3 separate regions of the Homo sapiens genome follow, and all the other regions are reported to be linked to region 1. Evidence: microRNA targets listed by miRTarBase, many of them from high-throughput screens and not tested one by one. Region 1 holds a microRNA gene; each other region holds the end of a gene's coding sequence.
The links. The annotated mature microRNA hsa-miR-3173-3p reads AAAGGAGGAAAUAGGCAGGCCA and lies in region 1 at 3,132-3,153, shown strand. An mRNA with a match to its seed (bases 2 to 7 or 8) in the 3' UTR can be bound and repressed. Matches are read on the target gene's strand: a 7mer-m8 pairs with bases 2 to 8, a 7mer-A1 pairs with bases 2 to 7 and ends in A, and an 8mer does both.

Region 2: the mRNA of TCHHL1 is a reported target of hsa-miR-3173-3p. Seed matches in the 3' UTR shown: 7mer-A1 at 1,132-1,138.
Region 3: the mRNA of N4BP1 is a reported target of hsa-miR-3173-3p. Seed matches in the 3' UTR shown: 7mer-m8 at 1,277-1,283 and 7mer-m8 at 3,313-3,319.

The regions. Positions count from the first base shown.
Region 1 is chr14:95,136,003-95,141,075 of GRCh38, reverse strand. It overlaps MIR3173 (microRNA 3173), which reads left to right and starts at 3,090; the gene lies at 3,090-3,157. The region is part of intron 1 of DICER1 (dicer 1, ribonuclease III); the gene reads left to right.
Region 2 is chr1:152,080,399-152,085,471 of GRCh38, reverse strand. It overlaps TCHHL1 (trichohyalin like 1), which reads left to right. Exons shown (of 3, transcript NM_001008536.2): 3 at 1-1,331. The coding sequence ends at 505. It also overlaps the pseudogene LOC100131107. Among named protein-coding and RNA genes, the nearest start is that of TCHHL1, 6.1 kb to the left of the region's middle.
Region 3 is chr16:48,538,441-48,543,513 of GRCh38, reverse strand. It overlaps N4BP1 (NEDD4 binding protein 1), which reads left to right. Exons shown (of 7, transcript NM_153029.4): 7 at 253-4,788. The coding sequence ends at 610. Among named protein-coding and RNA genes, the nearest start is that of N4BP1, 69 kb to the left of the region's middle. RefSeq lists enhancers at 892-1,392, 1,393-1,893, 4,441-4,940.

The DNA of each region.
Region 1 (5,073 bases):
ATAAAATACCATCTTTAGACTTTATTTACTTTGATTTCCTTATATTAGCTTTGAAATCTTTTTTTGAACTTTGCTCTAGCTCTTTATTTCTCCCAGATCTCTGGGAATTAGGCATGCTATTGTAGCTTATTCTCTTGTTCTTTGTTTTAGGGTAAGCCTTGGTATCCTAAAATAATCTAAATGCCTTTTGTTTAAAATTTAATTCAAAATAATGGCCTTTTATTCAACTCTTCATATCAGTAGGGCTCTCTTGTAGATGTGTTTCTGTTCAGTTTACAGGAATCTTAAACTTGGCTATTTTTGCATTTATTTTTAGAGCAGAAGCTTGGGCATGCTGTGATTTTCCAATAAACTGCTATCACAATGTCAAAATGCAGTTCAGACAAGAGCAACACAGAGATCTCAAACATTAAAACGGTAAATCTGTGATTCATCATGTGGAAAGAGGAAGAGAGTTTATTCTTGTCTTTCTTGTCTTTTGCTAAATTACAGTCATGCATTGCTTAATGACTGGATATCTTCTGAGAAATGCATTGTTAGGCGATTTTGTCATTGTGTGAACATCATAGAGTGTACTTAATTAACATAAACCTACATGGTATAGCCTATTATACACCTAGGCTATATGGTATGACCTTTTGTTCCTAGGCTACTAACCTGTACACCATGTTACTATATTGAATACTGTAGGCCGTTGTGACACAGTGGTATTTGTATATCTAAATATACCTAAGCATAGAAAAGGTACAGTAAAAATACAGTATCATAATCTTACGAGACCATAGTCTTATACGGGGTCAGTCTCTAAAACATTGTTATTGGGTGCATGACTGTATTTCTAAGTGCATAATATGTGGAAACTATGAAACAACCTCACTAGTTTCATGAGGGTAAGTTGTTTGACCAGAAATTTAAAATCTATAGTTGAAAAACAGTCATGTGGAGTTATTTTGGCTCTGCAAAAGCAGTTAATGGTAGCCAGTTTATCTGTGAAACTAGAACCTTTACCTGCCAGCAGAGATTCAGATCTTTTCATTAAGGCCAAGTTTAAAAAATCTGTTTAAACATGCCAAGAAAGTAAAAATTGGCAAAATTATAGGTTTTCCTGTTTTTATATTACAGATTACCTGTTGGAATTTTAAGTCTTGGATTTGTTTTCCCTAAATAGAAAGTGCATTACTGGGGCCAGTTATTGTCCACTAAATGAATGAAAATTAATTTAAACATTGTAACCTTATGGAAAATATAATTGGAAGGGTTAAATTGTTGTTCTTTATGTCCTTGTACATCCTCTCTCCTGCACTCATCTCTCAGGGCTGGTAGGAGTGGGATAGATGTGTGTTTCCAAACCGAATAGAAATATATCTTGATCCATCCATGATTCTGTTCTGTATATTATTGTGTGGACATTCATGAGTCTCTAATTCAGTTTGTCAAATATTTACTTAAATGTATATACAGAACATTGTAGCAGGAAATTTAAGAGGTGCAAAGAATGAGACTCATGTCTTGTTCTTATGGAGCTGTGCTCCAGTAAAAGAATAACATGTATGTTGTGTATGTGTGTCTATGAATAGCTCTAAAAATCTGTGATAGAAATTATGAAAGGCAAATAGAAGCTGTTTGAGGTTTTAATGTCACTCAGGTGGACATTGTTTTCATTCTAACAACCTGCAGTTTTTGTTTACCATGTCCTGGATGTGGTTCTGTACAGTGGGTAATACAGGTAAGGGTAAGATATGCAGCTCCTATATCCAAGGAAATTCTAGTCTAATTGGTCATATTTTAGTGAGAACAGAGTTTTAAGAGAAATTTTCTAAATAAGAATTCATATAAAATTACAGAAGTACATTTTATGGATTAAGACTATACCCCAAGCCTCTGTAGTATAACTGCTAGGATCACTTGGATTGAGCACATAGGATTGAAATACAGGATTAAACACTTTCAGTTGGTCAGTCAGGGAGGATGCATAATATGCTATAGGCTTTCAGCCAACAGGGATTACTCTTCTGTTGTGGAAATTGCTGGTGAATGGTGATGAGGCAGCAATAGGATAGCATTCTTTTTTTTTTTTTTTTATTTTTTTATTTATTTTTATTTTTTTTATTATACTCTAAGTTTTAGGGTACATGTGCACATTGTGCAGGTTAGTTACATATGTATACATGTGCCATGCTGGTGCGCTGCACCCACTAATGTGTCATCTAGCATTAGGTATATCTCCCAATGCTATCCCTCCCCCCTCCCCCGACCCCACCACAGTCCCCAGAGTGTGATATTCCCCTTCCTGTGTCCATGTGATCTCATTGTTCAATTCCCACCTATGAGTGAGAATATGCGGTGTTTGGTTTTTTGTTCTTGCGATAGTTTACTGAGAAGCTGGGTGAATAATCTGAACGTAAGGTTACAGGTCGGCAGAAGTCAGGCAGTCATGAGTGGGGGCAGTACTTTTCAGAGTACATTTGGGACTAGATATCACAGAGTGTAGTGCTTTGCTTAATTTCCTTTTTAAATATCAACTTTTTAATGAATTCCATTCCAGTAGTTTGTATTATTTTCTTACACATGGTTTTTTGTGAGAGCTGATAGAAACCTTAATCTTTTCAGGTATTTTTGGTTAGAGATGTTATTTCTGTATTTCTTTATTGTTTGATATTTATTTTTACTATATAATGTATCTATTTTCTCTTTATTTAGAGCCTAAATGTTGATAAATGTAACCTTTCATTTCTCTGTTTTTTTTTTCCACTTTTTTTCTCAGATTGATTCTTAGAAACCAGCTACCTATCATTTTTTTCTAAACCCTGTGAAAGTTTTAGGGTGGGGTAGGGCATTTATGAGAAATGTTGTGTTTGCTAAGAAAAAAAAAAAATCTCTGTCCTTTGAAATGCCAGGAACAGAACCTGGACACTGAGTGAATTTGCAACTCCTCCTTTTCCAAGCTCTTTACCTGCTGGTTTGTAGGAATAGGATCCACATACTTGAGTGAGGTTGGTGTCTTGAGGTGAAACCGGGCCTGAGAAACATTGGAGGTCTAGGGCTTATTTTCCAGATAGAATTGAGTCTTTGTTGGTCTTGGGCCAGCTTCCCTGCCCTGCCTGTTTTCTCCTTTGTGATTTTATGAGAACAAAGGAGGAAATAGGCAGGCCAGGGAAACGATCTCTCTCCCTCTCTTGTGCCGAGGAAGAACTGTCCAGATTTTTCCTCAATTTGTTTCCGAAACAAGCGGCTTTGCAGTTTCAAAAAGAATTTACTGATAGCAGAAAGTGAAAAAAAGTATTCCTAAGGACAAATAAGGAGAACATTTTCAAAGTCTTAGAAGCTTCTTGGTAGAGCTCATCCCTGGTTTTTTGGAGTCTAAGACCCTTGACTTTTCCCTTACAAACAAAGCTTTTCACCTTGCTTGGGGTCTGGCTGCAGTACTTGTTCATTATCTCAATATTTGTGGCCTGATGGCTTTCTGCTTTGATCCCTGACTTTTTTCCTTTCCCCTTCCCCTTTCCCTTCCCCTTCTCCATTCCCTTCCCCTTTTTCTTTCCCTTTCCCCTTTCCCTTTTCCTTCCCCTTCCCCTTTCCCTTCCCCTTCCCTATCCCCATTCCTGTCCCCTTTTTCTTTCCCTTTCCTCTTCCCCTTTTCCTTCCTCTTATTCCCTTCCCCTTTTTCTTTCCCTTTCCCCTTTACCTTTTCCTTCCCCTTCCCCCTTCCCTTTTCCTTCCTCTTTCCCTTCCCCTTCCCCTTTCCCTTTCCTCTTCCCCTTTCCCTTTTCCTTTTTCTTTTGCCTTTCCCTTCCCCTTCCCCTTTCCATTTTCCTTTTTATTTCCCCTTTCTCTTCCTCTTCCCCTTTCCTTTCCCCTTCCCTTTTTCCTTTCCCCTTCCCCTTTTCCTTCTCCTTCCCCTTTTCCTTCCCCTTCCTCTTCCTTTCCCTTTTCTTTCCTTTTCCCCTTTCCCTTGCTTTCCCTTTTTCCTCCTTTCCTTCTTTCCCTTCTTTCCTTTTTTTCCTTTCCTTTCTGTTCATATCTGTTCTTTGCTTTCCTCTTTTCTACTTATACCTTTTACAGGAAGTGATAATAGTGATTTAGAGAGTGTCATTTGGTTTGCTTTTATCCCAGAATATTCAACTCAAGCTAGCTTGGATAGTTAAGGAATTTGTTGGCTCAGTTAATTGGAAAGTCCATTGTTAGGCTGGGCTTTGAGTTTGGTTGATCCAGCAGTTTATTGATGTCATCAATGACCCAGGTTCTTTATTTTTGCCATCTGCGGTGCTGGTTTCATCCTAAGGCTGGATCTTTTCATGGGTCTGTGTAGTGTAATTGCAGCAGCAAATGGGACTAATAATTTCATGAGTCATCTTTAGAGGGAAAGAAAGACAACTGCTTCTCTTCAACCATCAAATGAAAGTCCTAAATTTTTTGCTGTTGGATGAGCATGAACCAATTCCTCTGGCCAGGGGTAAGTTGTATGCCCATCAGCTTAGGTTTGGGTGACTGGCAGATGGCAGAAAATAAGAAACTAGAGCCTAGGCAGCATAGTGAGACCCTGTCTCTACAAAAAATTAAAAAATTAGCCAGTCGTGGTGATGCACACCTGTGGTCCCAGCTACTTGTGAGGTTGAGGCTGCAGTGAGCCATCATTGCACCACTGCACTCAGCCTGAGTGATCGAGTGATTCTCAGTCTTGGTGAAAAAAAAGAAAAAAAGAAACTGGATCCTTGATCAGTGAGCCACTGTTTGACTGAGACCACGCTGAGTTGAGCATGGCTATTACCTGTGGAGGAAATGGAGTATTTGAGAGCTAGCCAGAATCACCTGTCCTTGTGCTTTTGAATACATAAAGGAATGAGGTATTTATTTATATTTGAGCAGAAAATGAAGAAAAAGATTTATGTTGCAAGAATAATAGGACAAAAATATGTGCTGTACCCATTTTGCCCCACTTGCTTTATCAGCTGTGTGTGTGTGTGTGTGTGTGTGTGTGTGTGTGTGTGTATCTACATGTAGATTCTTTTTCTGTACCATTTGAGAATAAGTTACATGTATCATAGCTCTTTACCCCTAAATACTTCAGTGTAT
Region 2 (5,073 bases), not on the chromosome of region 1:
AACAAAGGAACCTGTAACATCAGAGGAGGAAGATGAAAGTCCCCAAGAGCTGGCAGGAGAAGGTGGTGACCAAAAAAGTCCAGCCAAGAAAGAGCACAATTCTTCAGTCCCCTGGTCAAGTCTTGAAAAGCAGATGCAGAGAGACCAAGAGCCCTGTTCTGTGGAGAGGGGTGCAGTCTATTCCAGTCCACTATACCAGTACCTACAGGAGAAGATACTGCAGCAAACAAATGTAACCCAAGAGGAGCATCAAAAGCAAGTTCAGATAGCCCAGGCATCAGGCCCAGAGCTTTGCAGTGTATCCCTCACCAGTGAGATCTCAGATTGTTCTGTCTTTTTCAACTACAGCCAAGCATCACAACCATATACCAGGGGACTTCCACTTGATGAGAGTCCTGCTGGTGCACAGGAAACACCAGCTCCCCAGGCCTTGGAAGATAAGCAAGGTCACCCTCAGAGAGAGAGGCTGGTACTACAAAGGGAGGCAAGCACCACAAAGCAATGAATCATTATCATCTCAACATGCCCCCAATTTCTCTCCCAATCACCCTCAATACTCACGTGTACACATTCAGATGCAGATTAACAATCTTTTAAATTCTCTTCCTAAATTTCTACAAAAACAAATAATAAAATATTCAGCAGTGGGGGACACCACTAAAGAAACATCTGAGCAAACAAATACAGTCAGTAAAACTCCTACCAAACAATGCTACTTCCAAATGCCAAAATGGGCTTTGTCATGAGACAGTTTATCTCAATGTACCTGTCATTAAAAATGGAAAAATTCCTTCCATATCTTTAGCAGGTGCCAGTTTTTCCAACTGATTCATTGAATTTAAAATAGAGCAGTAGGAAATTATAAGACTCTGCAATAATATCTCATAATCATAAAATATTAATTCATATATATAGATTACTCTGCTTCATGACATTTCCTAGAAGTATTTCAAGTTCATCCTAAAATTTTATCCTTCAAAATAATTTTAGACAATGCCATAACTTAATTATGATTTTCTAGCACTTGATTAAAGTAAATTTATGACTCTGCTCATGTTCAGGTGCAGCTGAATCTATCGCCATGGATTCATTCTTTCAATTACTCATCCAACAAATTTTTATTAAATCCCACTCCTTACACAAACTTTTCATAGCTTTTGGCTCAAATAAACAATCAAGAATAATTATGAGAGAAAACACAAATCTAAAGTATGTTTGATTTTATAAGAAGCTCTTGTAACCAACCATCCAGTGAGTCTACTAAGTGTTTACCTATATGGTTTGATGAGGGTATTAAATTAAAATTGATAATTAAACAACCTGATGATCAATTTCTTTTGTTGGGTCATTTTTTTCCCCTCATTCTCCGTCTTGCCTTGGAGACACTGATCAAAAACGAAAACAATCTTAGTTATTTGTGTTTTTTCAAAAGACTATAATTAAAGTATGATGCTCTTCAAGCTTAGTCATGACCCAGGAAAGGAATAAAATTGTTATCATACAATGTTTCCTGAAGCCAAAAAGCAGTCCAATACTCCATCTCCCATTGCATTCTGCCTTCGAGGTTCAGTATTCTTCCACTTCAACCTTCACATTTTCCAGAGCCTAAAATCCAAGTATATAACCTCCCCCTCCAATATTTTCAGCTCTTTTCATTCTACACTCAAATATGAATTATATCCCTATCTGAAAAAAATATTACTTTAAATGAGCAAGAAACATGAGACAATTCATAAAAAAGAAAAATATATATATTTCTTTTAGTTTGTCCATGCTCTAATATACATACACATACACAAACATACATATGTACTACACTAGAGCATAGACTTACTAAAGGAAAAAATTATATACATAATTTTTAGTTTATAAAATTATATACATAATTTTTAGTTTATAAAATTATATACATAATTTTTAGTTTATAAAATTATATACATAACTTTTAGTTTATAAAATTATATACATAACTTTTAGTTTATAAAATTATATACATAATTTTCAGTTTATAAAATTATACACTAATTTTTAGTTTATAAAATATACATAATTTTTAGTTTATAAAATTATATATAATTTTTATTTATATATAATTATAGATAATTTTAGTATAAATAAATATATACATACTAGAGCATAAACTCGTCATCCCTTTTGGCAAGCAATGTGGCAATAAGTATCTGAGTCCATAAAAATGAAAAACTTCATTATTAATAAATTCACAAAAGAAGCTATACAGATGGCCAATAAACATTCGAAATCCTCACTAGAATTGAAGAAAATGTGAATGACAAAACAGCTCCAGTGGCAGTGGTGCTGGCAGTCATAGAAAAGGATGCACAACTCACAGAGGAACAAGAACAGCCAAAAAGCAGAAACGTTTACCTATATGGTTTGCTGACGGCATTAAATAAATGGGCAGTGGCTCATGCCTGTAATCCCAGCACTTTGGGAAGCCAAGGCAGGAGGATCACTTGAGCTCAGGAGTTTGAGACAAGCCTGGACAACATAGTGAGACCTAATCTCTACTAAAATAGAAAAAGAAATCAAAATTTTCTGTACTAAGCATATTTTATTTTCTTAACTGAAAAAATTAAAAACTTAATAGCAACAATTTTTAAACACTCTCTTAGCATTCCAGCAATCAGCACTAATAGAATGGTGGGCAGAAAGAAGAAAAGTTTGCTGAATATATATATATATATATATATATATGTTTTTGCCATCATCCTTCAAGAAGTATTCCTTTGAAGGTGATGTTGCCCTCCATCCAACAAGCCTAAAGACCTCCAGCTTCCACAGTTTTGGACATCGGGCATTGATGACTGTCTTTCATGAAATACTCCCTTCAGTGGTCTTTCCCCATCTCCCTAGTTAATTCCTCTCATCCAGTGCCCAAGACTGTGCCCCCTTTCCAAGGACTCTTCTTTTTATGAACTTTCTCCTCGTGAGAACCCATGCTTGGTCCAACTTACTATTATCTCTTTCACACTGATGAGTCTCAATTCACCTTGTTCAAACCTGACTGTGCACTTCAATCCAGTCTCTACAAATGCTCACAGATATGACGCCTTCTATTGTCAACCACTTCCAGACAAACTGGCTTGTCTTCTCAATTTCCTTCCTACTGTCATTCTCTCAATCTTCATTCTATCATGCTTCAAAGGCACAAACTTTGGAATCATCATTTACCTTGTCTTATTCTTCATATCTAATCCACTTTGTTATCTCAATAGTTTTTCTTTTTTTTTAACTTCTTGCCTTTTAATAATATCTTTGAATATAGATGGTTTCAATTCTCCAATAACAAGATGTAGAGTGGTCAAATGGTTTTTCATACATGTTTTCCTAGTCCAGACACCCAAAAGTATGTCCCTCTCTTGGGCATAAGAAAACCTAGAGTTATATTTAGGGCATCATGTGTGGTGAATAGTTGACCGAGCTGGCATGCTCACAATGACCAAATTATGTTTGTCATATTTTAATCCAATACATTGATCTACTATGAACTTGTAAATAATGTATTTGCTTTCTAGACACATTCCAGGAAGACCAGAGAAACTGACTTTTATCCATATGGAATAATCCACTGGCAAATTTCTTTTAGGACAGACCAAAGCTGATCTAGAACATAATCTTTACATACTTGGATCCTTCCCATCAAACAAGAAAGAACATCTGGGGTGAAAGGCTCCATTAGAAGAGTAATGTGGGATGGTGCTGTGCTGACAACTGGTAGTTCCTGCCCTACATCTTTGTAGAGGACTGGAGCCCAGAGCATGCCATGGTCAACTTGTATGCTGAAGTGAAGAACTCCTTCAAGGTGTGCATGTGCTTATTACAGATATGCCATGGTGCTAAGTACCCCAGGACTACAGGAAAAAATAAGAATAGATGCTGTATCCATGATCATGAGGCACACAGGCCAGAGCGCCAGCTGTGGAATCACACAGCCCAGGTTCAAAGCCTGGCTGGGCCATGACCACCTGAATGACCTGAGGAATGGTCTCAGGCAAATTTGTAAAAAGTGGAGACACTGCCTGCCAGGGAGGCATGTGGTAAGAGGCGCATCCAGTCAGGTCAGGGCACCGCGTCCTCTCTTTGGAAACCTGCGGAGCGGGGCTGGTGGCCCTTGAGGCCACAGCAGCCATGGAGAAGGCGGGCCTGGCTCCAGGCGGCACAGAGGCACTGGAGAGGACCCGGGGGAGCCTAGCGGGATCTGGCTGGTCCTGCGCTCTGCTTCCAGGTTCTGGCCCTGTAACCCGGGAGACAGGGCCGGCCAAGACAGGGCCACTGGGTGCCAGCCAGCACCTGGGCCGGGCGCCAGGCGGAAGGGCTCTGGCAGATCAGCCCCGCACCCCCAACAGCCCCACAGGGGGGCCCATCCAGGGCCACACACCTGCCCCCAGGAGCAGGACGTCCCTGAGGCTAGAGTCCAGCTGGACCGGTGGAAGGGTCTCACCCTTTGCCCTTTTACCCCTCTTGTAGGCACCCTCGCTGGGCTCCTAAGCACTCCTCCACAACCCTGGCTCTGTCACCAGCCCCATGGTGATGTCATAAACTCCCAGATGCCCAGTGTGCACCCGGCCACAGAGAAGTGGGTGACTTAGGAGTATCCTCTCTGCTTCTGACCCTTAGTTTCGTCTGTGCACAACTCGCTCAAAATGGGCAACTCACTAAGCGTATTTTGTTCCTGGTTCCGCCGCAGGTCCTGGCCATGCCATCGGCAACCTGCTTGTCTTGTCCGTGAGGCCTTCCCAGCTGGCCGGGCTCACCCAGCGGCTCCTGCACCTGTGCCTGCCCGGGGAATCGTGGGCCGTTTCCCACTCCTCTTCAACCGTCAGCGACATCTTGGGCCTTCTTTTCCAGTCAGGTGGGATGGCGCCCCTATGAGGCTGTGTCTTATCCCTCAGAACACGGGCACCCCACAGAGGGTCCTGCCTCCTGTGGTCTGGAGCCCCCCTTCAAGGAAGAAACCCATGCTGTCTGCTTGCAACTCCATGATGTTTGGACACCTCAGCCCCGTGAGGATCCCTCATCTGAGAGGCAAGTTTAACCTTCAACTTCCTTCAT
Region 3 (5,073 bases), not on the chromosome of region 1:
CTGGGAGGGTGGTGCTCCCTCATAGAGCGCATTGATTCCCTGGCACGCCTTGAGGTGATGTCAGTGAAATCCCCGCAGGCTCCTCTGTGGGTGTCTCATGGCACCATCTCCACCTCAGTCTTGCATCCTGCCTTTGGAAGCCAGGGAGCGGCATCCTGAGCCTCAAGGCCTGCCGCAGGTACCTTCTAAAATAGCTCTATGATTTTTTGTTTACTTATAACCCAACTCACCAGGACTCACTTCCATTCACAGAGATATGCAGCCCCTACTCAGTGCCCTGCCAAATGTGGGCATGTTTGACCCCAGCTTCAGAGTCCCTGGCACCCAGGCAGCCAGCACCAGCCACCAGCCTCCGACCCGGATTCAGGGAGCCCCTTCAAGCCACTGGCTCCCTCAGCAGCCCCACTTCCCACTGCTGCCAGCCCTCCCCAGTCTCCAGCAGAACCTGCCCATGCCAGCTCAGAGATCTTCTGCAGAAACCAACGAGCTGAGGGAAGCCCTTCTGAAGATCTTCCCTGACTCAGAGCAAAGACTGAAAATAGACCAGATCTTGGTGGCCCACCCATACATGAAAGATCTAAATGCGCTTTCTGCCATGGTGTTGGATTGAAGATTGTGCTGAGCGCTGAGCTTGCGCTCAGGGCTGGCTGATCAAACTCAAGCTCACACCTGTACCTGATGGGAATGAACATAATGTGAAGAAACTTATTTCCCAGTGTAAACGCAGTTGTACAGAAAAAAAATGTTTTGGGTATAAATCTGGGTTTTCAAAACCAGCTTTTTTCTATATATAAATTATGCTGCTATTACAGATTTAACATTTTCTGTTAAAGGAAAGTCTACATTTTCTGCCTGTTCAGAACTGTTTAATAGCAGTTACTCTTGAGTGTATTTACCTTTTTATGTTTTTTAAACTATTTTCCTTAAAGCCGAAAATATTGACAAATGGATATGGTTAGCCTTTATAAATAAATAAAAAAAAAAGTGTTGCTTTCTTAAGGAAAGCAAGACGTCTTAAAGTATATTTTCTTGAGATGAGTATGTCCCATCACTACCATGAAGTGTGCTCACCCTTCCAGCCTCCTCTGCCCTCACCCCCGGAGTTAAAGTGGGTAAGAGTTGGTTTGTTCTGCAGTCTTTGGTTGGAGTGTTGTGAAAGTGGACCCGCGGTGCCACTAGATGGCACTTGGTGCCTAGCCATGGTGAATGACCAGGGCGAAGTTAGTCTCACAGAATACCAGGGCTAGAAGACATCGTGGAGCCCATGGAGTCCCACCCTCCTTCCCCCTTCCACCCTGCGCAAAAGGGGACGGCCCAGTGTGCACGCCGTCCGGCCATGCCCACAGCCACAGCCACAGCTGAGGAGTGGCCGGGCAGGCAGCAGGCTCCCCAGCCAGGGCTTGACACGCCCACAGTCAGGGGCCTCCACATGCCTGGCCTGGCTCTGGAAGTCACGTCTTAGCTTCTGAACACCGTAGCGGGTTATGAGGAAGTTTAATGAAGAGCCCGGTCACTGTGGCCATCTTGTGTCCCCAACTGCAGGAGACGCCCTGATGTGGAGTTTGTACAGCTTTGCCAAAAAATGGTTTTCTATTCTCAAAAGTGACCCAAGCCAATAAATAGCATTAGTAGCTTCTGTGGGGGGATCCCAGAGCCCCTGTATTTATTTTCCCTGTGTTTGTCTCTAGTGTCCTCCTAAACAGCCTTTCCTGTGAGTCTTTCTCAGAATTGATATCTTAATATTGTCTGTTCTAGGTGTTGCCCAAATTCAGTGTCAGTGAAGTTCTTTTCCTGGGCAATCTTAACATCTTTACTCTTATTGTCTGGACCTTCAAAGGGCTTTGTATTTTACACCTGCGCCCCCAGGCTGCTCACAGTCGGCTTGCTGCCTGTCCTGCCTGTCCGGATCTTGTCTCCTAGTCCTGAGGAGCGGAGGCTGAGAACTCAGTGCTGGTTTGTAAATGGTGAGGGGACTTGGGGGCATCCCAGAGTGCTCCCTCCAGGCCTGCTTCTTGGTTTTGTTTGATCACTGCGTTCTTCAAGGGATGAATCCAGAGCCCTCCATGAGGCCAAGCTTGTCCTTCAATCATGTTTCCTCTCAGATGCGTCCGTGATGCCTCCTAATGTGGAACTGGTTGTCCATTGTTTGGGCCTATGGCCAAGTCACCCAGCTGTGGAAGCAGAGGTAGAAGACGAGGCCAGCCAGGAGGGCGACTTCAGTCACAGCTCCCATGCCTCAGCTTTGTACCTGTTTTCAAAAGCACAACTGAGGTGTGCGGGCTGGAGCTGTCTTGCAGTGATTCTGGCCTTCTGGCTCATGGTTCAGTCCAGCAGCCTGGCTGACCCACTATTTCTCCTCTGCTTCAGAGGAAACCCAGGAAATGCCCTTACTGCCAGGCTGAGTCTCCACCCATGCTGGTTGGTGCTGGCTAGGCTGAGGGGGCCACCACTTTTCCTGGCTAGAAGCTACTTGACCTTTGATGTTTGAGTTCTGTAAGTCTTCGTGTTCTGACTTACTGCTTCAGAGGGATTGGCCTGTCCCCTTTCCCTTTCTCGGCTATGGGAAGGAAGGATTGCTCATTGGTTGCCTTCATCAGTTACAGCATGAGACGGAATTCATCATTCCTTCCGAAACCCCTGATATTTAATATTTAATATTTAAAAACCCAAATTATCAAACCATTAAGAACTCATTACTGGTTCTCAGCCTCCTCCAGTACTAGCCTCAGTGTGGCTGCTGCATAAGTATCTGTAGCCTGTCTACCTCCTGCAGTGGGGCCGCTCGCCTCTTCCCTGTCTACTGCTCAGGCTCTCCCACTTCGTGGCATCCATGTAAAGTAGGTGGCAGGGCAGAGATGTCACTCTCATTCAACAGGGAGGATGTCTGTTGCTCAGAGAGGTTGTCCTGAGGGGCTGGGTGATTCCTGGGCCTACATTCTTCCCGAGGCTCCAGGCCGCTGTCTCTGGAAGTAAAAGAGCCTTGTCTGACCTTAATGCAAGCAGTCTGTTTGAACCCCTGTAGGCTGCATTCAGGAGACAGAAGGTGTCTGGGCCATCCTGGGCGGCCGGTCAGCGTTGCTAGGCAGGCTCGGCTGTCTGGCCGGGACTTGGGCCTGGGTGGCTTTTGAGACCAGTGAAGAAGGGAGAGCCGGCCTCATGCCGATGCGGCTTGTGGCACGGCTGGGATGTGAGGGAGGACTCAGATCTACACACAGAAACCCCTCTTCTCCCCGCCCTCCCCCAGCTCCTACCTGCCTCCCACGCCTCAGGTGTGGCTGCCTGTGGGACCATCCCCCAACCCCTTTCCTCGCACCTCCTTGTCCTCACCCAGTTCCTGCAGTGTCTCTGACCCACGCCTCCCGCCTCCTGGCCGACTTGCCCAGGAGGTGTCTCTGGCTCACCTCCGTCTGTTCATCACCTTCCTCCCCAGTGTTTCCACTTATCTTGGATGTTTTAGATTGAAACAGCCTGATTCCCGGAAGAATCCTCTTCATTCATTGCTAGTGCTTCCCCTCACCTCCCACTCTCCACTTCCCAGTTTGCAAATGTGGCTTTCGCCCACCAAGTGAAAGCGGACTGAGAGCAGCCCTTGGGGACGGCCCGGTGCCTGGCTGCAAGGCCGCGCTGGGGCTCTGTCTTGGTGCACATGGCTTGACCGGACTTTCCCTGCTTCCCACCACTTCCCTCACTCCCAGACCTCCCTCATTCTTTTTGTCTCTTCTTTTTGCCTAAAGCCAGTCCTTAACACCCTATTCTTCCTCTGCAGGTGGCTTGCAGACTTTTCCCCACCTTTGGGGCTCGTGGTGGTGGAGAGGGCAGCTGGTGTTAAGAATGTAGGTTACCGGGCATGACCCGGCAGATGCTTGCCCAGTAGTTCTGGAGGAAGGCCCGGGAATCTGCAAATGAGCGCATTCCCCAGGCAGTTCCCATGCAGGTGATCCACGGACCACATGTTGAGAAACTGCAGTCACCCTTAGGGCCACACCGTCCCTCTCCTCGCTGTCCCCTCTCTGTAGTGACTGGCCCTGACCTTCAGGAGTGCACTTTCCACTCTACCAGGAAGCCCTATGACATCCTCAGGCTCCCCAGACCTGCAGCTTGCATGGGGCCCCTCCCTTCTTCCACACCCACCCTCCGTATGGTCCCCTGCTCTGCCCTCGTGCTTTGCTGGCCCCTGCCCGCTACTCCCACTCTCAGACACCCAGGGGTGGTGGGCCCTAACTGGCTGGCCCCTCCCAGCGCTGCCCTCTGCCGTCCAGATGCTGCAGTGTGGCCAGATTTACCTTCCAGTAACATACTTCTAGTCACCCCTCCTCCTGCGAAGTGATCTGCAGTGGCTGTTTGACCAGACCACAAAGTTCACATCTCCTGAGCTTAGTGTCCGTGGCTGTCCACCTCCCAGCCATACTTGACTGTCCCCAAACTCTCCCTGCAGCCACATGTTTCCCATGACCTGTGGGCTCTGCAGATGGACCTCTCTCCGCTAGAGATGCCCTTCTCCCAAATGGCTTCCCTCCTGGAAGGCCCAGCCTGAGTCCTCGTCTCCTTTCCAGTGCTTCTGCCAGAAGCATCCCCATGATGTTGTGACCGCACAGCACTTTGTGTCTCGCTTTGAGCACTTGCCACTCTGGCTGGTGCTGCTGCCACTGATTGTGTACTGTCTTGCTGCCCTTTCTAGACTGTGAGCTCCTCGTGGGCAGGGACCGCCTGTGTTCTCTGTATTTCCCACGGCGCCTAGCACAGTGCCTTGCACTTGATAGGTGCTTAATAAATGTCTGCTCAACTGAACTGGAGGACAGTGCCTTCTTGACTGCGGCATCTGGCAGCAGGACCAGTAAGAGGCCGGGAATCCACTGCCCTGCAGTGGGACAGTGGGGTGGGGCTGGGGTCACTCCACTCCCTTCTCCCTCCCCTGCCAGGCTCCAGCACATGGCATCCTGGGCACACAGGTCCGGGGAGGGGTACCTGGCGCAGGCTGCATACTAGATGCACTCAGGCTTCCTGGCCAGGGCCGACAGCCGGCCCAACCTATGCCAGTCCAAGTCACTCCTGGGGAGTTCCTCTGTGGTGGTG